3 linked regions of the Homo sapiens genome follow. The protein of the gene in region 1 purifies or fractionates together with the protein of each later gene. This does not show direct contact. Each region holds a gene or a part of one and is shown on either strand. Other genes may lie near its edges.

Evidence for each region. The genes of interacting proteins can lie anywhere in the genome.
Region 2: the proteins of PDCD10 (region 1) and SLMAP purify together in Homo sapiens (affinity purification with mass spectrometry; 4 studies listed by BioGRID and IntAct, with this or other methods). This does not show direct contact.
Region 3: the proteins of PDCD10 (region 1) and FGFR1OP2 purify together in Homo sapiens (affinity purification with mass spectrometry; 4 studies listed by BioGRID and IntAct, with this or other methods). This does not show direct contact.

What each region holds. Positions count from the first base shown.
Region 1 is NC_000003.12:167,689,211-167,696,904, reverse strand, and holds part of PDCD10 (programmed cell death protein 10), read left to right. Parts: intron 1-1,182; coding exon 1,183-1,309; intron 1,310-7,694. UniProt on the Homo sapiens protein: Promotes cell proliferation. Modulates apoptotic pathways. Increases mitogen-activated protein kinase activity and STK26 activity. Important for cell migration, and for normal structure and assembly of the Golgi complex.
Region 2 is NC_000003.12:57,905,962-57,913,308, reverse strand, and holds part of SLMAP (sarcolemmal membrane-associated protein), read right to left. Parts: intron 7,343-7,347; exon of another isoform or gene 7,262-7,342; intron 5,426-7,261; coding exon 5,303-5,425; intron 4,255-5,302; coding exon of another isoform or gene 4,234-4,254; coding exon 4,159-4,233; intron 1,423-4,158; exon of another isoform or gene 1,388-1,422; intron 1,171-1,387; coding exon of another isoform or gene 1,118-1,170; exon of another isoform or gene 929-1,117; coding exon 608-928; intron 152-607; coding exon 34-151; coding exon of another isoform or gene 1-33. UniProt on the Homo sapiens protein: Associates with the striatin-interacting phosphatase and kinase (STRIPAK) core complex, forming the extended (SIKE1:SLMAP)STRIPAK complex.
Region 3 is NC_000012.12:26,941,123-26,948,469, reverse strand, and holds part of FGFR1OP2 (FGFR1 oncogene partner 2), read right to left. Parts: intron 1-7,347. UniProt on the Homo sapiens protein: May be involved in wound healing pathway.

The sequences.
Region 1 (7,694 bases):
TCCCTCCCTTTCACTTATGATGATGATGGTGGTGGTGGTGATAGTGATAGTGGAAGCTAATGTAGATAAAATAGAAAAATGGTTTTTCTTGCTTTTTATATTTGTGAGATTTAATTACTTGAACTTTGTTTATGCTGCATACTTCAATTTTTCCCCCCTTTATGTTTGGTGAGTTTCAGTTTTACTAAAAGATAAGCTTATTTGGAATGTGTTGACTTTAAGCAAACAACAGTTTGAAAGTAATGAGGTTTTTGTTTTGTTGTTTTTTTAACTTTAGTACAGCATCTGTGTTTCAAGCACAGATTTAAGAGAATAATATAACCATCCTTTTTACTTTTCTTATTTTTTTTACTTGAAATTATTTAGACGTTGGTTTTACTTAAGTTTAGTAGCAGTTTTCCCACTAATTTAGAAAAATATGGACATATAATTTCCCAGAATTATTAAGGAAGAACACAAAGCAGGTATTTTAACTGATTCCATGATTTTAAGAAAGCCCTTATCATTATTTAGAGTTGAGCATTTGCAGCCCATTAGGCCATAATATATTGATGAATTGGTAGAGTTGTAATGCTTCCAAGTCTGCAATGAATCTAGTGAAGTCTCCTTTCCAAAATTGGTGTTCTGTGATCCCAGCCTGTGTGTTGGATTTGTGCTGGTGTTTTTGTTTTTAAGTGAGATTTCAAAAATGTGTAGAAGATTTTATTAGATTATTTGGGGTTTTAATATGATGAAGCAATGTATATTAAATATAGGGGTTTTAAATTTTTAATCTTTCCAGTTGGCAAGTAGATATTACCTTTGCACTAGTTATGACACTCATTATTTAATTTAAGGTTTCCTTGGGAAATGTAATGTCAGAGTACGGTTGAACTTAAGCCTCCCTTTTAAATCTGTTTTTTTTTTGTGTGTTTTTTTTTTTTAAGATTTCATGGGATGTCCTTTTGTCCCAAATTGAAAATATTTATTCTTTCTTTTTGTGATACTTTACTTGAAGGGAGCCCTGCTGTTGTTACTGGACTAAGTCAAACGCTAATGAATTCTGCTTTGCAACCTTGTCTTTCCTAATTATCTGGCCTTTCACCTCCCTCACCTGCCTTTGACCAACATTGGAAATTCTTAGATGTGATGAATTTGGCAGAGAGTCGCAGGATGTTTTTTATTATGTATTTATTTTATCAGAGTATATGATTGAACGACCAGAGCCAGAATTCCAAGACCTAAACGAAAAGGCACGAGCACTTAAACAAATTCTCAGTAAGATCCCAGATGAGATCAATGACAGAGTGAGGTTTCTGCAGACAATCAAGTAAGCAATTATTTGTTTTGTTTCTTCTTTTCTTAAAAGTACTTCCGAGGAACTACTCATCTACATTTTTTAATTTTGGTATGACTAACTTGAAATGCTTATTTGAAATAAAATCTCAAATTTTTAAATACCACATTTTATTAACTTTATGGCGTTTGGTTTCAGAGTACAGCATTTTTTAGAATGTTTAATTTTAAAACAACAATGAAATGTGCATAAACTGGAATGTAGTTTGAACTACATAAATGATGGGAAGATATAAATGTCAGATAAATGAATAGAGAAACTGGATATATCCTAGAGATTGGTAGTAAGATATACCAAAATAATTTTTATTTCAGAAATAGCAGCAGTCATTAAGGTAAGTAACGTACTCTTAGGCATGAGTAGTGTTTTCTAAGACTGACCAAATAGCCTCTAAATCCTTGCCTTTGGGGGATATAGGTTAAATAAGACCAAGAATACTCATGGGGCCAGAAGGCTGGCTGGTGAGCAGCAGCAAGAAGGGTCATCCTAGAGCAGTAGTTCTCAGACCAGGGACACTCTTCTGGAGTACAGTGAAGGGTGAGAGGGTAGGGGATTGAGTGAAAACATAATCCCTACATAAGTATCTTTAAACTAGAAAGTCTGATAATTTTCTTCAGCCTCAGTGGATAAAAAACAAAGAAAGCTGGGAATACTTGCAGTGTCACTATCAATGCATGGTTTTGGTGAAACCATAGGTAGATATTGCTGGGGAGAAAAGATTTAGCGCAGGTCTTTTTCTGGAAGAGGCTGTGACATATGTGGTAACTTTGAAGAACCTAAGGAGACTCACTTGGAATAAATAGTAACATTCATCTTTTGGAGTTTGGGCAGTGGGAGGAGTGGCAGCAGCCAGGCAGCCCAGCTTTGTGAAGGCCCTCAGCATGCCATGGCCCACATGCATCTGATATGCGCCTTCCCCACTTCCAGGATGCCCAAGAGGACGGTCAGCTCAGCTGATGGGACAGTGAGGGAAGATCCCAAAAGGAGATTGATGTGGTTGTCAGCTAAACCTGCTCTTTCAGTAGTGGAAATTGAAGCCCCAAAAGGTAGCAGGAAAAGATAAATCTTCAGGCAAAAAAGTGCAAACAAAAGAGAAAAGAGTAGGAAAGTGAAAACAAGCCAAAGTAGCTAAGAATAAAGATTTACCTGCAGAAAACAGAAAAACTAAAACTGAAGAGAGTCCAGCCTCTGAAGCAGGAGAGAAAGAAGCCCAGTCTGATTAATATCGCATACCATGTCTTATCAGTGGTTCCCCGTCTCTCTTCTTACATAATCCAGGAGAATATTTTTATCAACTATGTTGTAAATGCATGTTTTTTAGTAGCTCTAATGTTTTTTAATAGCTCTAGAAACATTTAAGGAGGGAATTCCACTGCATTCCATTTTTTAAGTGTAAATGCTTTTTTTTTTAAAGAGGTGAAATAATTTAATTTGCTGGTTATTTTTTGGTACAATGGGAAAATAATGTTGGATATTGAATTATGGGAAGCCTTGACTGTTATGGGTGTCAGCTTAACATTCCATAGATGGGTGGTTAGTTTTTATATCCCATAATATAAAGCATACTAAATGGCAAAGTGGAGTCGCAGTCCTGCATTTCATGTCTTGAACATTTTTAATTACTTCACTCTGTCACCCAGGCTGGACTGCAGTGGCATGATCATAACTTACTGCACCCTCAACCTCCTGGGCTCAAGCAGTCCTTCCACCTCAGCCTCCAGAGTAGCTAGGACTACTGGTGTACAACACCACACCAAGCTAATTTCTTTTTTTTTTTTTTAATTTTTAGTAGATAACCACATCTCCCTACATTGCCCAAGCTGGTCTCTAACCTCTGAGCTCAAGTGATCCTCCTGCCTTGGCCTCCCAAAGTGTTGGGATTACAGGAGTGAGCCACCACACCTGGCCTTAAATTACTTCTACTCTTCATGTTGTTTTTTAGTGGAATTGTTTCCTTGGGCAAACCACTCCTTGAGCCTGGCTCTACCTATCAGAATTGTGTGCACTCTGTAACATCTTTGGTCATGGTAGTCCTGTTTTTCTAATAACTTTGTTAATGTGCTGTGAAAGATTAAAGTATATAGTGTATATGCTATTAAATTGTGAATTGGTGGGACGTATGTGACAGCTTATCAACATTTGAAGGTACTGGTACTTGATAGCCTTTTAAGGTAATTTTGCCTCAGTTGTAAGCTGGAAAGTCACTGGAATAACTTTAGAGAATAATAATGATACGTGGCTTTTTAGATTTTGCAGTACATATGTTCAGAATTATGTACAAGTTGAAATGTCTGTGTACTGATCCTCAACACAACTGATGAAATCTCAATTATGAAAGAAAAAGAAAACATTCATCTTTTGAAAATAGTATTCTTTGTCATTCACATTGAGAAATGCTATTTTAGCTTGTTTGGATACCTAGCTAGTTTGGATACTCTCTTTTGAGTCACATAAAGAGAGGAATATGTCCCATAGAAAATAATGGTTCGTGATAGGTATGCAACCCAGCTATCAAGGAATGACCCTACTCTTTGACAATAATTAAGGGCCAGGAATATAAAAAAGGCTTTTAATTGAATAGCCAAAATCTGTGTCACAAGGGACAAACACTAAGGGTTTTTTTGTTTGTTTTGTTTGTTTGTTTTGTTTTTGAGACGGAGTCTTGCTCTGTCGCCCAGGCTGGAGTGCAGTGGCGCCATCTCGGCTCACTGCAAACTCTGCCTCCCGGGTTCATGCCACTCTCCTTCCTCAGCCTCCAGCGTAGCTGGGACTACAGGCGCCCGCCACCATGCCTGGCTAATTTTTTGTATTTTTAGTAGAGATGGGGTTTCACTGTGTTAGCCAGGATGGTCTCGATCTCTTGACCTTGTGATCCGCCTGCCTTGGCCTCCCAAAGTGCTGGGATTACAGGTGTGAGCCAACACGCCTGGCCTAAGGGTTTTGTATTTTACCTTTCCTATGGGAAAGCCCCAGCTTCCTTTTCTACTTTTAATATGTGAAGGAGGAAGATAATCAACTGTTCATGGAGTTTTATTTTTAATCTGGTACAAGTTGAGCATCCCTAATTTGAATATCAAATTCTAAATGCTCCAAAATCCAAAACTTTTTGAGCACCGTGACATGACACCATAAGTGGAAAATTCCACGTCTGACCTCATGTGATGGATGGGTTGTAGTCAAAACACAATCAAAACTTTGTTGTATGCACAAAATGTATGCATATATGGATGCACTTTATGAAACATAAATGAATTTCATGTTTATACTTGGGCCTCATCCCCAGGTCTAAAGACTTCTGGTCTCAAGCATTTTGTTTAAGGGATACTCGCCCTGTATAGTTAAAGTAAACATGTTTGGCCTGTAAAAGGATAAATTGTCAGTGATCCCAAACTTAGTTGTTTAGACTATTTATTTCTAAAGTTTTGAAATAATTTGGTAAGTTTTCATTTGCTTTGATAATCGTGTACTTGTTGATGAGCCATGACACATTTCTATGAAGATTTGACATTTAAAATAATATTTGCAGCAGATTTTGCTTCAGATCATCGAAGTAGGTTTATATAATCAATGTCATCTTAATAACAATCATTTATATAGGACTTATTATATGCTAAGCACTATTTTAATCACTTTACATTTATTTACTTATCACAACAACCCAGTAACAAGTGAGGAAATTGAAGCAGGCACAGAAAATTAGGTAAGGCCACAGAACTTACCTATTAAGTGGTAGAGCTGGATTTGAACCCAGGCAATCTAATGCCAGGTGTTCACTGCTGTTTCCCAATCACAGACTTCCAATGTTGATGTAATCTGGAGATTGAAAAATAGAGTTTCTGCCATTTGAAAGAAATGTGAAAAAGGATATTTTAACATAGAATGCCAGTACGTGAGAGAGATAACAGTATTGTGGTTGAAACTGGCATAGAAATGTAGGCCCAGAGCTCTCATCCTGTCACTTTGACATCCTCTTTCCCCCTACAGAGTCCCTGAGACATCTCTGCTAAACCGTCTGTGACTCTAGGGAGCTGCGGTTTGAAAACCACATTATTAGCAGCACATTTTAGTCATAAGGAAATTGAGCTTAAGAGTCTTGTCTATAGTCATTGACAGAGGCTTTCTTTAGGGTGTTGTTTTCTTTATGAGGGAGTAATAATACTTCAGTTCTGTTTTCTAGAGTGTACTAATTTAGCACAATTGAATTAAGAGTAATGGTGGCAATGAAAATTTACTTCCTAACCATTTGAGGAGGGATAATTTGCCCTGGCAAGTTTGTTGATATGTATGTTATTTCTGAGACTAAAATTCAACCACATATGAATAGCATAGATAGGCTAAAGTATAATTATTTGTATCACTGTCATATATTGGTACATTTTCATGTATGTTCTTACCATTATTAATTGACAAATTAGTGGATAAAATTGCACTAAAATAGAAAATGATTTCTTCTTCAGGCGTTTCTCCAATATTTTACTTTCTTATATCTAAGGTAGTTATCCCCTTTATTCATTTTAGCAACATTTTTCAATAAGCATATGTCATATACATATTACACCAAGTACTATAGGTGATGCTATAGATTGTATCAAAGTACAAGTAAAAAAGAATCCTGACAGCTAATAAATATTCAGGCAATTTTGAATATATTAGCAGACCTAGATTTGAATCTGTGTTCCAACATTTAGCTATGTAACCTTGGATATAAGTTGCTTAACTTCTGTCATTTTAGTTTGTGCCTCTGAAAATGAGGGTAATGACTTGTGAGAATTGAAAGAAATGATGTACATGAAGTGCCTAGCACAGAACCTAGCATACATTCAACAGTACATGCTATAATAACATTGTGAAATGAGGATTTTCCTCCCTTTTCTCAATGGAGTTGATAAGGAAAAATGATCCAGCAAATATTTCAAAAGGCCTTTTGATCAATGAATGTGTGTGCCTGAGTACATTTGAGCTATGCAAATATGTTATAAAATTAATTTGTATTTTTTTTGAAGTCCAATACATCTCAACTAATGGAAAACTAGTGGAGACTCGTGATTTAACAGACCAAAATAAAAAAGCCAGGCATTTATTTACTGTTTGTAATCTGCATTTGCATATTCTTAGGCTAAAATTCAGCAAGGTTTATTTGTTTTAAGTTAGGAGTTTTCATGAAGGGTTCAGAATAGATTTTTTCAGAGTTTTCCAGTCTAAACCAAACTCAACATAAAGCACAGGGATTCCCTTTCATTAGTGCATTTGCATAAATGCGTATCATGCAAATTTGGGTGGCATGATTAGAAACTCTACTTTTCTATTGCAGTTTTTTGATAAGATGTATGTTTACGTTTCATCTGAAGCCTTTGCCTTTCAGTGTAATGTTTCGCAAAGCTGCGCTATTAGGTTGGTGCAAATTGCTAAGTTCCTTCTCCTTCTACTCATACTATCTGCCTCTTATCACAGAATTCATCTGCACCAAGCCGCATTCATTAGTTATGCGATATTTATTTTACCCTCAAGTTTTTTCTCAGTTCTTTATCTGGTTAATTGTCTATAGTGGTTTTTTTGTCCTGGTATTTTCTCTCGTAGGAAACAAACTCTCTGGTAGTTACTAATATAATTTAGCTTCTCTATGTGCACACCTTGGTGCCATAAATGAAAATACTTTTCTGTGTACATATGGATAACATAATATTTGACATACATTGCTGCAGATTGTTTCTAGAGAACATTTTTTCTACAATTTGGTAGGCATTTAACAGTCTTTTGCCTCGTGTCCAAACAGAGGCTTAGGAATAAATGGCCTTGGTTGACAGAGAGCTCTGTTCCAATAAGGCATTAAACCTTAGCTCCAAGTTTTCAAACCTGACTCATCAGCAGTCACCTGAGGAGTTGCGCCTCCCCCCACCCCCTTTTAAAATAGAGATTTCCAGTATTTATCAGCAGGTCTTTCTTTTTTTGTCCAGCAAAACCCTCCCTTCTTCTCCCCTGTGTTTTTGTCTCCCTAGGTGCATGAGGCAACATGTTTCAGACCCACTCTTTTGACTTGTAGAATCTAGCCACTGTTATTGTATATGAAACATACGCTCATTTTGATGACTAGCCCCGGAAACACATTTTATTCCTCTTTAGCAGAATATTGAAATACACTACAAAGTAAGACTATATAAACTTCTGTCTGATCACTATGTAATTTGCTCCATTATATTCCATTTTAAATAACTCCATTGTGGATTTGGAGAAGCTTGCATATTTAGAGATTTGACATGTTTTATTTGTTGAAATTGTAATTTTTCTCACAGAATAGTCCTATGACAGCATTTTATTAAACAATAGTGGGTTTATGTCCATCACACCAATATACAAAGAT
Region 2 (7,347 bases), about 110 Mb from region 1:
TTTATATCTGAAAAACAGAGAGTTCTTGCATACTTGTGCAATTCTTTTTCTTGCCGTTGCAGTTCTGATGATAGCAAAACATTTTCCCTTTTTAGAGAATGGCATTCGGTTTCCAATGCATTCCATTCCTTTCTCAACTTCTCTAGTTCACCTAAAATAGTCCCAAAACATATTTGTTAATACAGAAATATAACTTCCATAATACTTCAAAGGATAAAGGAAAAGATTTCAGAGGAGAACATACTTTTTGCCCCCTTAAAAGCAAGTAGATTTTACATGGTTAATTATATGATTCCTGTTACTTTGCATGTATACCTCAAGGACTGCTATCAGCTTGTACTTGAACAATAGTATTTTTTTCCACTTCACTTTTATAAGACAAGCAATTTTTAACAATTTTAAAATAAAATATAAAACCGTAAAAAAATATAAATTTAAGTAGAACTTGCAGACCTGAAAATACATTTTTAGCTCCGATTTAAAAACATTGGTTTATACAACTGATAGCTAACAAAGAAAAAAAAAGCCTGCATGTTTCTTTTTTAAACAAGTTAAGAAGTTATCATTGTCAAAAGTTAACAGCTTTATGTAAAATACATTTATTCACCTTGCAACCTTGTTGCTTCTTCTCTCTGCTGGTCCTCACACTGTTGACATCTAAGCTGAAAACTGTTTTGCAGACTTGTGATTTCTTTCTCATATTCAGACGCTGCTTTCCGCCACCGCTCAAGCTCAGCTCTCACCTTCTTAAGCTCTTCTTGTAAAGAAGCAATGTCAGTGTCCCGCTCAGAGGCAACCTTTGCTGCTGCTTGATGAAGGAGCAAAATTTCATCTCGGGCACTAAGCAATTCATCTCTAGTACTTGTGATTTCACTGTCCTTCTCCTCCCGGAGATTCTCAGTATCGATGTGTAACCTCTGCAATTGGGCTGCAAAAGTATATCCATCATTTTCTTGGCCCATTAGAATAAAAGAATAATCCATACAGGATTGTAGCTAATGCATAACCTGGGTTGTCAGAGCTGTTGCTTTTGATTAAAGTGTATAAACAATCCACGTTTGATGCAGAAAGCGTCAAAATACAGATAGCAAAGAGGAAAAAAAAACCAAAGTGATCTTCATCTCCCCAACACACAGAAAATTACTTCTGATATTCCTTCTGGATTTTTTCCTATGCATTTATAAACATGTAAAAACAAACATTAAATAGGGAGTGATCACAATAAATGCAGTGTTCCCTATCCTTCTGTTGATGAAACTCTTTCAACAAAAAAATAGTTATAGTATATATAACTTATTTGCCCAACCCTTTATTTTTGACATTTTAGGCTGTTCAGTGTTTAAACACTATATACAATCCTTTTTTTTTTTTTTTTTTTTTTTTTTAGGGTGAATCCTATGTGTAGAATTGCTTGGTCAAATGGTAAGCAATAAAAGCAATAAACAGTTGACGCCCTTGATTCGTTTTTCTGTTCAAATGTCAATTCTTTAAAGAGGCCTTTTCTGATGACTCATGTGAAAAACAGCTCACTGTCATTCTCTGGCTCTTTACTCTGCTTTATTTTCCTTTGAAGTCCTTATTGGACATCATATTATCTATTAATTTGCTTATTGTTTATCTTTTCTACTGGACTGTACACCTCATGTGTGTAGGGCATTTGTTTTGCTCACAGCTGTCAGGTATTGGGGATACCCCAATATCTAACACAGTAAACAATCAAGAATTATTGGTTGAATTAATGAGTTAATAAAATTAATACTGCCTCATTGAAGGGTTATATAGATTTTTAAAAATACCTGGTTTTGTGCTCATGACCCAAACTGGAAACAATTTGTATAAAATCAAACTTGGCGCAGAACAAGAAAATTAATATTGGTTACCATATTATAAGGAAATTGTAGATTTAAAAAGTTCCAAAGGAAAATAATTAATTACAAGAGGATTTAGGGATGGGAGAAAGGGAGGTTGCTACATAAGTAAACATTAAGATATTAGACTTTCTAAGTTTGTAGGAAGGACTGAGAGGTAACAAGTTTGGAATCTGAAAGGGCACAATGGCCAGAGAAGATGATCATGATTTGTTGATACAGTCGTGAAATACACATGCTGGCACCAGGGGGCACTCAATAATGCCTGGGCAAGACAGGTTTTAAAAAAAAGGTAGCACTATGTCACAGAACCTTTAGGAAAAATTGCCCCTACACAGTCTACGATGAAAATAGAGATCCAAATCAGATTTATGTAAATTAATGGATAATGACATTAAACTACAATAGGAGTTTTAAGAGCTTTCAATTTAAAAACACATATGACATACCCTAGAAATTCTAATCTGACCAAAATAAAATTCTAATTTTAAATAACTCAAATGTTCCACTCAAAAAATAGGACCCCAAAGACTAGTTTTTCTCTGCGATATTTTTGGGCAAGTATCTTGGGCCTCGTACAATGACTCTCCCTTCTCTTCTGAATAGTGATTACTTGTCTATTTAATTTCTTCCCCACCTATCTCTCAAGCTAAAATTTTAAAACAACATTGGCTCCTTCTTTGACAAGAAGGCAAATTAATTTTACTTTAGGAATTTTACAATGGCATGGGAAAGGAAGACCTCTCCTGGGGTATCATATAATTTCCTCATAATATACCAGGAGCTCAAGCTTGAAGTAAACATTCGACAGGCAGGGGTCTTTCTGGAAATTTCTGTAATAACCCTGTAATAGCCCAGACAAAGAAATAGCAAAATGGTGATAAGAAGAACAGCCATTATCAACGAAAATCAGTGCAGAGACTACTATCCTATTCCACGTGATATATAATTTTTCTTGAGGCCAGGTGCAGTGGCTCATGCCTGTAATCTCTGCACTTTGGGAGGCCAAGGTGGGTGGATCACGAGGTCAGGAGTTTGAGACCAGCCTGGCCAATATAGTGAAACCCCATCTCTGCTAAAAATACAAAAATTAGCTGGGCATGGTGGCATGCACCTGTAGTCCCAGCTACTTGGGAGGCTCCAGAATCACTTGAACTCGGGAGACGGAGGTTGTAGTGAGCCAAGATCACCACTGCACTCCAGCCTGGGCAACAGAGCAAGACTATGTCTCAAAAAAACAAGCAAAAAAATATTTTCTTGCAATACAAGTGTGTTCTGAGCATTAGATGGCAATATATCTACACCAGCCATCAATATATACATATACCAGCAAGCTCAAAGTGCTGACGCAGAGTAGCTCAAACAGATTTCCTATCCAAAGGCCCTCTGTAGGAACTCACGACATAACTCAGAAAGTGACAGTCTTACCAACTCCAAATCTTCACCTCTGCTTTTTCCATTCTAAGTGTCTAATACGAGAGTACTGGACAATCTTCCCTTGAATTTTCTTTAAAAAAAAAAAAAAAATAGGCCAGGCGCAGTGGCTCACACCTGTAATCCCAGCACTTTGGGAGGCCAAGATTGGTGGATCACCTGAGGTTGGGAGTTTGAGATCAGCCTGACCAACATGGAGAAACCCCATCTCTACTAAAAATACAAAATTAGCTGGGTGTGGTGGCGCATGCCTGTAATCCCAGCTACTCAGGAGGCTGAGGCAGGAGAATTGCTTGAACCTGGGAGGCGGAGGTTGCAGTAAGGTGAGACCGCGCCATTGTACTCCAGCCTGGGCAACAAGAGCGAAACTCTGTCTCAAAAACAAATAAATAAATAAAGCTCCACCAAGAGCCGTGTTGAAATGTGAGGTTCTAGAGAATCAAAGCCATGAAAAATGGGGACTCTCTGCCTTCTTACTTTCCATTTCATTTTTTTTTTTTTTTCTGAGATGGAGTCTTGCTCTGTCACCCAGGCTGGAGTGCAGTGGTGCAATCCCAGCTCACTGAAACCTCCACCTCCCAGGTTCAAGCAATTCTCCTGCCTCAGCCTCCCGAGAAGCTGGGATTACAGGCATGCACCACCATGCCCAGCTAATTTTTGTATTTTTAGTGGAGACAGGGGTTCACCATGTTGGCCACACTGCTCTCGAATTCCTGACCTCAGGAGATCCACCCTTCTCGGCCTCCCAAATGCTGGGATTGCAGGCATGAGCCACTGCGCCTGGCCTCCATTCCTTTTGAATCACTAAAAACAAACACACAATAACAATCTCAAAGAGCCTTGGGGTCTTCCATACCTTGAAGAACCTGTATTTGTTTAGTGGATTCCTCAACTTGATTTCGATAGGCTTTTCTTTCTTCTTCCAAAAGAGCTAAAAGTAAAAACACAGTATCTATTAATAGTTTTGTGAATTAATGAAAGTACTCAGAGTTGAGCAGCTGAAAATTTCTTTTAAAATTCTCTCCTAAAAGATTATTGAAAGAAACAAAAGTTAGGCAGTAAGTATTATCAGTATTAGCAGTTAGTTTAAAGATTTTAGGAGCACAGAACTGTAGTAAGTAATAAATCTATTCAACTGAGTAGTGGAGTTTTCTGGACCTGGTATCACCAAGACAATATGTGCTTTTCTTAACATGAGAAACAGTCTTGATAATTGTTAATCAGCATTTTGAACTTAATTTTTTAAAAAGACTTAAAATTCTTATATTTACTGTCAAGCACATAGTAAACACTAAACTAAATAATTGCTATTTACCAAATATTTTTTCATTGTAATTTAATATATTAGCCTGGATCCTCCAAAAGGTTCAAGTTAAGTGAATACCAATTCTAATTTCTTTGAGAATTAGGAAAGGAAAGAAGTAGTAACAAGAAGTTCCTAGTTCCCTCCTGGGATGTAAATCTTCCTACTAGGCAGGAAGGCCATCTTGGAGAACATGAGGGCTCCAGAAGTCATTCCCTTTCTCATTTTAAGACTCTTTGAGATACTAATTGTCTGCAACCAGGTAGTTACTATGAATGATACAGAAATGTAAGCTCTAGGGAACTGCACAGACTCCACTGGCTTATGACCTATAGATAAGTGAGCTACTAGAAAAGAATGTGGCCAGGACATTAGCTAACATTAGGCATAATAAAAATTTAGAAATTTGAGTTTTCCTTCTGTTGTACTTAATATGCAATTAACTATTAAGATCTTTCAGTTAGTAAAGATCTTACTTGATTTTCACATCAACAGTGTGAAGGTAGAGCAACTGTAACTCTCCTCATTTTACTGACCTGAAACACAAGTTTAGAGAGGTCAAGTAAATATACCAAGATCACATATCTCATAAAGTTGTGAATCTGGAACATGCCTCCGGACTCCAAGTTTGGGGCCACCCAATTATATTGTGCTGCCTCCACACATCCCTAAAGAACCAAAGTAATCTTGATCTCACCTTGAAGTTCAAAGCATTTTTGTTTACTTGTTCTAGCTAGCTCCTGGGCTTCGATCAATTCCTTTCGAAGATGCTGTATTTCTTGCTTTGCCTCAATTTCTGACTGTGCACCCTGCAAGTCATCTGACAAAAACATGTTTATTTTAAAAGCAAGAGTTAGTATCACACTATAATCTACAATAAAAGACTGGTAATCTCTCTCATGTTTGCACATGCATAAACAACATAGAACAACTGAGTTAAATAAAACTTAGAAGCAAATTATAGTAAGCATTTTAGTAGTTGGGAGAAAATACAAATACAGTTATATATATTAGTAATCATGGTGATGACATTATAAAAATATATTAACATAAATTATATATTCACAATTCTAGCATCAAAATAAACAGACAGTGACAGATTATAACTCATTGCTTATTAAGACTTGAAATTCAGTGAGATGAGCAAAATGCTATACTTCTTCATCAATTTTGAAATTTCTTGATAACCAGTCAGAAAAATTTCACTTGGAACTTAACTGGATATGGAAAACAAAAAGAAACTTTTCTTCAAGTAACAGCTAAATTTTAGCACAATTACCCTAGTTGTGGAACACAAAATAAAAACTAGGCTGAAAGCTCTACTGAGCCTACTTTGTCATCATCATTTCCCCAACACGCACATATAACAAATATCTGAGCTGGGCGTGGTGGCTCATGCCTGTAATCCCAGCACTTTGGGAGGCTGAGGCAGGCGGATCACGAGGTCAGGAGATCGAGACCATCCTGGCTAATACGGTGAAACCCCGTCTCTACTAAAAACACAAAAAATTAGCCAGGCGTGGTGGCAGGTGCCAGTAGTCCCAGCTACTTGGGAGGCTGAGGCAGGAGAACTGCTTGAACACAAGAGGCAGACGTTGCAGTGAGCCGAGATCGCGCCACTGCGCTCCAGCCTGGGCAACAGAGTGAGACTCTGTATCAAAAAGAAAAAAAAAAACCGCAACAACAACAAAAATCTGCTGAATATATTAAATGATGTAACCTAAGTGGTTTTACCGAAATAAATTAAATCCAGCATTCTATTTCAAATATGCCCCTTCCCCTAAACTCCTTCCTCTCCAATCATTCTGCTTTTTAATTTTTTAAAACCTTCTGCTACTGAACACTGCCTGAAATAAATATATCATCAGGTAAGCCATATTGTTCTAATGAATTCTATTTGAGTATCACCTTGGTTTATAAGTACCTCAGCATAATAACTTCAATTCATCAAAAAAGAGCTAAGAATAACTTTCACAATACAATTACAATAGGTTTTGGAAATTATATATATATATATATATATATATATTTTTTTTTCATATTCATAGATTATATCCTATTTTTCTCTCTAGAAAAATTGTATTCTGGCCTAGGCGCGGTGGTTCATGCCTGTAATCCTAGCACTCTGGGAGGCTGAGGCAGGCAGATCACTTGAGGTCAGGAGTTTGAGACCAGCCTGGGCAACATGTGGAAACCCCGTCTCTACTAAAAATACTAAAAATTAGCTGGGCGTGGTGGTGCGCGCCTGTAATCCCAGCTACTCAGGAGGCTGAGGCACGAGAATTGCTTGAACCTGGGAGGCAGAGGTGGCAATGAGCCAAGATCGCGCCACTGCACTCCAGCCTGGGCGACAGAGAGTGACTGTGTCTCTAAAAAAAAAAAAAAAAAAAAAAGAAAAAAAAAGAAAAAAATTTGATTCTGGGTTCAGCTACTCTAGTCAACTTATCAATTCTTCCTTCAAAAGGTCTTTGGGCCAGGGAAGGGGCATGTAGAGAGAGAGATTTTTCCAGTGGCAGAAACACTGTTGCATTAGCTACAAAACTTCTCTCACAGCTCTTTCAACACTATCCACTGGAGTCTGCAAAGGTCCTGGCCCCTGTTTCTGGATTTGTCATTATATAGGATAATGCTCTTTTTTTTTTTTTTTTTTTTTAAGGAGTATTTAGAAGAGAAGCATCATGATGCTTGCATCTTACATTCAAGTGGTTTGACAAAAACATCGACATTAATTCCTTGAGTAGG
Region 3 (7,347 bases), on another chromosome or scaffold:
GAACAACACTTTCAAAATGCTGAAAGAACAGACCTATCAACCCAAAATTCTATATCCAGCAAAAATATGTTTCATATATGAAGGTGAAATAAAAGTCATTCTCAGCTGAAGAGAAAGAAGAACTTATTTCCAGTAGACTTATTATAAAGAATACTCTTCAGTTAGAAGCAAAGTGTTATCAGAAGGAAACTTAGAACATCAGGAACAAAGGAAGACCAACTGAAATTGTAAATATCTGGGTAATTATTTTCCTCTTAGTTCTTTTAAATGTCTAATGTTTAAAAACAAGAATTATAACATTTATCTAATGAGATTTTTAATTTATGCAGGCAAATATATAACTACAAGAAAAAGGGAGGAGGCTAAAAAGGCCTATACATTGATCAGATTTCTACATTTCACTTGAAGTTGTAAAAATATCAATTTTAAGTAGACTTAAAAATTTACATATATTGTAATTCCTAATAAATCCCTAAAATAACTGCACAGAGATAATAGTCAAAACTACAATAGATTAATTGAAATGAATTAAAAAGTGTTCAATAACCCAAAAGACAGAGAAAAGGCAAAACAAAGGAATATCAAAGGAACAAAAAGAAAACAAATGATAAGATGGCAGAACTAAATCCAAACATGTTAATAATTTCACTAAATATAAATGTCCTCGACATTTATATTTAGATAAGATTAAGACAGATGATCAGAATTTTAAAAGAGGACCCAACTATGCATTGTTTATATAAAATTCACTTTAAATATGATATGGGTAGGTTAAAAGTAAAAGGACAGGCCGGGCATAGTGGCTCACACCTGTAATCCCAGCACCTTAAGAGGCCAAAATCGGAGGATTGCTTGAGCCCAGGAATTCAAGACCAGCCTGGGCAACATGGCAAAACCCTGTCTCTACAAAAAATTTAAAAATTAGCTGGGTGTGGTGGCACATGCCTGTAGTCCCAGCTACTCGGAACGGTGAGGGCGCAGTCAACCCTGGCTGTGCCACTGCACTCCTGCCTGGGTGACAAAGTGTGACCCTGCCTCCAAAAAAAAAGTTAAAAGGATGGAAAAGAGGATATACTGTACAAATATTAGTCAAAAGAAAACCAGAGGGCTAATAAGAACATGAAAACATGCTCAACATAACTAGCCATCACTGAAATGCAATTCAAAACCACAATGAGATATACCTACTAGGATGGCTATAATAGAAAAGATAGTAAGTGTTGGCTAGGATATAAAGAATGTGAAATGGTATAGCCACTTTGGAAAAGTCTGACAGTTCTTCAAAAGGTTAAACATGTGATCCAACAATTCCACTCCTAGGTACATACCAGGAAAATGAAAGTATGTCAATGCAAAAAACTGTACATGAATGTTCACAGCAATATTATTCAACTGATAAATGAGTAAATATGATGTGTTCATACAGTGGAATATCTGGCAAAAAAAAAAAAGTAGGGGGGAATGATGCCCTGAAACAGGCTACAACATGGATGAAAACTGAAAAAATTATGCTCAGTGAAAGAAGTCAGTCACAAAGACAATGTATCACGCCATTTATATAGTGTCCAAAAGAGGCAAATCCACAGAGGCTGAAAGTAGATTAGTGGATGTCTAGGACTGAGGGATTAGGAAAAGGAAGGAGGAATGGGAAGTGACTGTTAATGAACATACGGTTTCTTTTTGCGCGGGAAAAATGTTCTAAAATCAATTTTGTTGATGGTTACACAACTCTGAATATACTGAAAACCCTAAAAGTGTACACTTTAAATAGGTGAATAGTATGGTATGTGAATTACATATCTCAATAAAGGTGTTATATTTAAGAAAAGAGCTAGAGTGGCTATATAATATCAGACAAGGTCAGGCGCAGTGGCCCACGCCCATATAATCCCAGCACTTTGGGAGGCCAAGGCTGGCAGATCATGAAGCCAGGGGTTCCAGAACAGCCTGGGAAACATGGCCAAACCCCACCTCTACTAAAAATACAAAAAATTAACCGGGCGTGGTGGTACACACCTGCAGTCGCAGCTAGCTGGGAGGTGGAGGTAGGAGGATCACCTAAGCCCAGGAGGTTGAGGCTGCAGTGAGCCACAATCACGCCACTAAACTTTAGCCTGGGCAACAAAGTGAGACTTGCCTCAAAAAATAAATAAATATCAGACAAAGTAAACTTCAGAGAAAAGAAAATTACCAGGGACAGAGGAACATTACATGATGATAAAATGCCCAATCACCAAGAAGACATAAGCATCCTAAATGTATATACAACTATAATTAAAGAGCTTCAAAATACAAATGCACTAACTCAAACAACTGAAGGGATATATAGGCATATCCACCCTTACTGCTGAAAAATTAAACATTCCTTTCTCAGTAACTGGCAGACTTTGTACACAAAAATCAGCAATATAGGCAAAATGAACAGCATCCACTAACTGGCTTGAATTGATATTTATGAAATGCTACAACCAACAACAGCAGAGTACACATTCTTTTTAAGTGCTCAAGATATTCATGAGGATAGATCACATCCTGGATCACAAAACAAACCTTAACAAATTTAAGAGAACTGTAATCATACAAATTATGCTTTTTTTTTTTTTTTTTTGAGACGGAGTTTCACTCTTGTTGCCCAGGCTGGAGTGCGATGGCACATTCTCGGCTCACTGCAACCTCTGCCTCCTGGGTTCAAGCGGTTCTCCTGCCTCAGCCTCCCGAGTGGCTGGGATTACAGGCTCATGCCACCATGTCCGGCTAATTTTTGTATTTTTAGTAGAGATGCGGTTTCACCACGTTGGCCAGGCTGGTCCTGAACGCCTGACCTCAGGTGATCTGCCCGCCTAGGCCTCCCAAAGTGCTGGTATTACAGGCGTGAGCCACCACGCCTAGCCAGTACAAATTATGCTCTCTGATTATAATGAAATTAAACTAAAGTAAGTAATTAAGAGATAACAAGAAAAATCTCCAAACATCTGGAAGTTAAACAATGTACTTCTATATAATAAGTCAAAAAGGAAGTTTCTGGAAATTAGAAGATACTTTGATCTAAATAAACATGAAAATACAAAATATCAAAAATTTTGGCATGTATGTAAAACTCTACTTTGAAGCAAATTTATAGCATTAAATGTTTATATTAGAAAATTAGAAAGATCTCAAATCAATTATGTAAGCCTCAACCTTTAGGAACCTGGAGAAGAAGAGCAAAATAAACCTAAAGTAAATAGAAAGAAATAATAAAGAGTAGAAATCAACGAAATTGAGAACAAGAAAGCAACAGAGAAAACCTAATGAAATAAAAAGCCAGTCCTTGGAAAAAAATAAAAATTGAAAAACCTCCTGAAAAATTAACCAAGAAAAAAAGTCAGCAGACATAAATTACTAATGGAAAGAAGGGATATCAGGAAAGATGAGACATCACTACAGACCTCTAATTCCTTAAAAGGATAAGTGAACACAATAATAAATTCCATACACATGAATTGGATAATTTAAATGAAATGGACTAATTCCTCAAAAAACACAAACTACATAAAGTCACACAAGATGAAACAGACAACTATGAATAATCCTATTATAATTATTTTAAGAAACTGAATTTGTAATTAGAAATCTTCTGCAAAAAATCTCCAGACCTGGATGGCTTCAAGGACAAATTCTATCACACATTTAAAGAAGAAATAACACCAATTATTATACAATCTCTTAAAAAAATAATAGAAAAGGAAATACTTGTAATTTTAATCTCATAAACTGATGTCAGTATTACTGATACCAAAACCAAAGAGAATACAAGAAAACCACAGACTAATATCCTTCATTAACATAAATAAAAAATCCTTAAGGAAATATTAGTAACTCAAATTCAGCAACTCATAATGAGAGTAATATACCCTGACCAATGGGAGTTTATCCCAGATTCAAGGCTGTCTCCAATGTAATCCACTGAAGAAGAAAATCACTTATGCATACCAACTGGCATATTATTAAAAAATTCCGCATACTTTCATAATAAAAATTTTCTGCAAGCTAGAAGAGGATTTTTTTAAACTGAGAAAGGGCATTTTCAGAAAACTTACAGCAAACGTCATACTTCATAATGAATGACTGACTGCTTTCCCAATAAAATTAGGAACAAGGGAAGGATGTCTGCAGTCACCAGTCCTGTTCAATACATTGGTGTAATAAGGCTAGGAAGGGGGGAAAAACCATACAGGCTGGAAAAGAAGAAATAAAACGGCCCCTTTTCACAACCAACATTGTTGTCTATGTAGAAAACCCCAAAGAATCCAAAAAAGAACTCCTAAAACTACTACATGATTTTAGCAATGTCACAGGATACAAGCATAAGAATCAACTGTTTTTCTATATACTGGCAACAAACAAATGGAAACCAAAACTTTTTTTTTTAAAACACACATTTACAATAGCAAAACAAAACAAAACAACAACAACAAAAAAACACAAAAAACAAACCCTGAGATTCCTGGGCACAAATTAAAACATATGCAAAATTTGTTTGCTGATAACTACAAAATGCTAATGAAAGAAACTAAAGAGGATCTAAAAGAATGGAGAAACATACTGTGTTCATGGACTGGAAGACTCAACATAGTAGGGAAGTTTTCTTTTTCTTTTTTTTGAGACAGAGTCTTAGTCTGTCGCCCAGGCTGCTGGAGTGCAGCGGTACGATCTTGGCTCACTGGAACCTCCGCCTCCTGGGTTCAAGCGATTCTCTTGCCTCAGCCTCCAGAGTAGCTGAGATTACAAGCGTGCGCCACCACGCCCAGCTAATTTTTGTATTTTTAGTAGAGATGGGGTTTCGTCATGTTGGCCAGGATGGACTCGAACTCCTGACCTCAAGTGATCCTCCTGCCTTGACTTCCCAAAGTGCTGGGATTACAGGTGTGAGCCACTGCACCCAGCCGAAATGTCAAGTTTTCTGTAACTGTTGTACAAACAGTGCAATTTCCAGTCAAAGTCCCAGCAAGATTTTTTTAGAGAAATTGACAAGCTAATTCTAAAATTAGCTTGGAAATGCAAAGAAACTAGATAACAACAAAACAACTATGAAAACAAAAAAAGTTGAAGAAACTATTTGTTTTCAGTTTTTTTCACACTACCAAAGTTTAAGACTTACTATAAAGCTACTTCAATCAAGGTGGCATAGAGCTGATAGAAACAGAAAAGGTTTAGAGACAGGGCCATACAAAAATGGCCAATGGATTTTTGAAAAAGGTGCAAAGGCAAGTCAAAGGAGAAAGGTTGGCTTTTTTCAACAAATGGTGTTGGAAGAACTGGACATCTATATGCCAAAAGTTTAATCCCAACATAATTCCTACACTTAATACAAAAATTAACTCAAAATGGACCATAAGTCTAAATATAAAATTAAAAACAATAACACTTTCAGGAAAAAAATAAGAGAAAATCTTTGTGACCTGGGGTTAGGCAAAGGTTTTTGTAAACATGATACTAAAAGCATGATTCATAAAAGAAAAATTTGATAAACTGGACCTCATCAAAATCACAAACTTTTGCTCTGGGAAAGACACTGTTTAGAGAGTTTGAAAAGACAAGCTACAGGCTGGGAGAAAATATTTCAAATCACTTATCCAACTAAGGACTTGTATCTAGAATACAAAAAAGTCTCTCAAAACAATAAGAAAATAACCCAAATAAAAATGAATAAAAGACTTTACTAGTGAACCAAAAAGATATGGACAAATAAGAAACATGAAAAGATGTTCAACATCATTAGCCATTAGAGAAATGCAATTAGAACCATCATGAAACCTGTCCTCTTAAAATGACTATCTATTTCTGCATCAATACCACATTGCCTCAAATGTAACAGCTGTAAAATAAACTCTCCCTATCTAATATGTATAAGTCACTGTTTTCTTCTTTAAAATTGCTTCACCTATTTGCCTTCTCTCTAACCTAATTCTATCCAAATGGATCTCTAGAGTACCCTAGAGGAAAATCAAACTGTTACGTAATAATTTTAATTAATTCAAACTGTTGGTAGCTTTCTGAATCTGAGCAATAACTAACTACCTTATACTGTCATTTGGGCAAGAGGACAAGTGTTATTCCCACTTTACCAATGAGAAAATAGACCCAGGAATTCCAAATCTAAAAAGCTGAGTGGCTCACGCCTGTAATCCCAGCACTTTGGGAGGCCAAGGCGGGTGGATCACGAGGTCAGGAGATCGAGACCAGCCTGACCAACATGGTGAAACCCTGTCTGTACTAAAAATGCAAAAACTAGCTGGGTGTGGTGGCGCACGCCTGTAATCCCAGCTACTCTGGAGGCTGAGGCAGGAGAACTGCTTGAGCCCGGAAGGTGGAGGATGCAGTGAGCCGAGATCGCACCATTGCACTCCAGCCTGGGCGACAGAGCAAGATTCCATCACAAACAAACAAACAAACCAACAAAGCTGAATGACAGCACCACAAAGCAAGGAAAGAGCCAAACTAGTACCAAAAATAGAATTTCTGATCCCCAGTCTAGTGTCCTATTCCTAAGCCACACTGGATTCCCAGGGTCCTGTTTGCTTTTTACCTGTATAGAAATAATCTCAATCTCATCAGGTGGAAAACGAAAAAAAGTAAGTTCTCTGACCCTACCCAACACATGGAACATCCAAGATATTTTTTAAAATTTTCAAGCCAGCCATAGAAAAGAAATGGGAATGTATATGAAGACAGATTTTAAAGAATAAAAAAATTTCAAATATTTTCCAGACATAACAGCCTAGCAACCATTTTAATTAGGTGTCACAGTTAATTACAAGATCAATGAATGTTTACTGATTGGCTTTTTAAAGTTGTAATTAATATCCACTTTATGAAAAACACTCTCTCCTCTCCAGATTGCATAATGAAATACTACTATCAAAATCAACTACATTTAAAATTTGTTAACTATAAAAACCTACCTATTCAGGGAAAGGAATTATAAGCAGCAGGTAGCTCAAAGCATAATTTTTTTTAGCATTTCAGAAACACAGTGACAACAGTTTCTAAGAATTTGCATGTTCATTTCCTGTACGTGAAACCACACACACAAAAGTTTAAAATATTTTATAATATGCATTTACTTTATCACCTTTTTTGAAGACCATTGTGCTTCCCCTCTTTTTTGGCCAGGAAGTGGAGTGGGAGGAAGAAGACTGTTTTCCAAACTCTCTAACAAGTTTCAAATTTTAAAAAACAGACTACAGTAAAAAAGGAATATTCTAAACTTTTCGGCCTATTTTTATAGTGCCTACCTTAACTGGCCATAATACACTTACTTACATTATTTTCTATAGGCGGGTCCAAATTACAGGTGAATCTCTT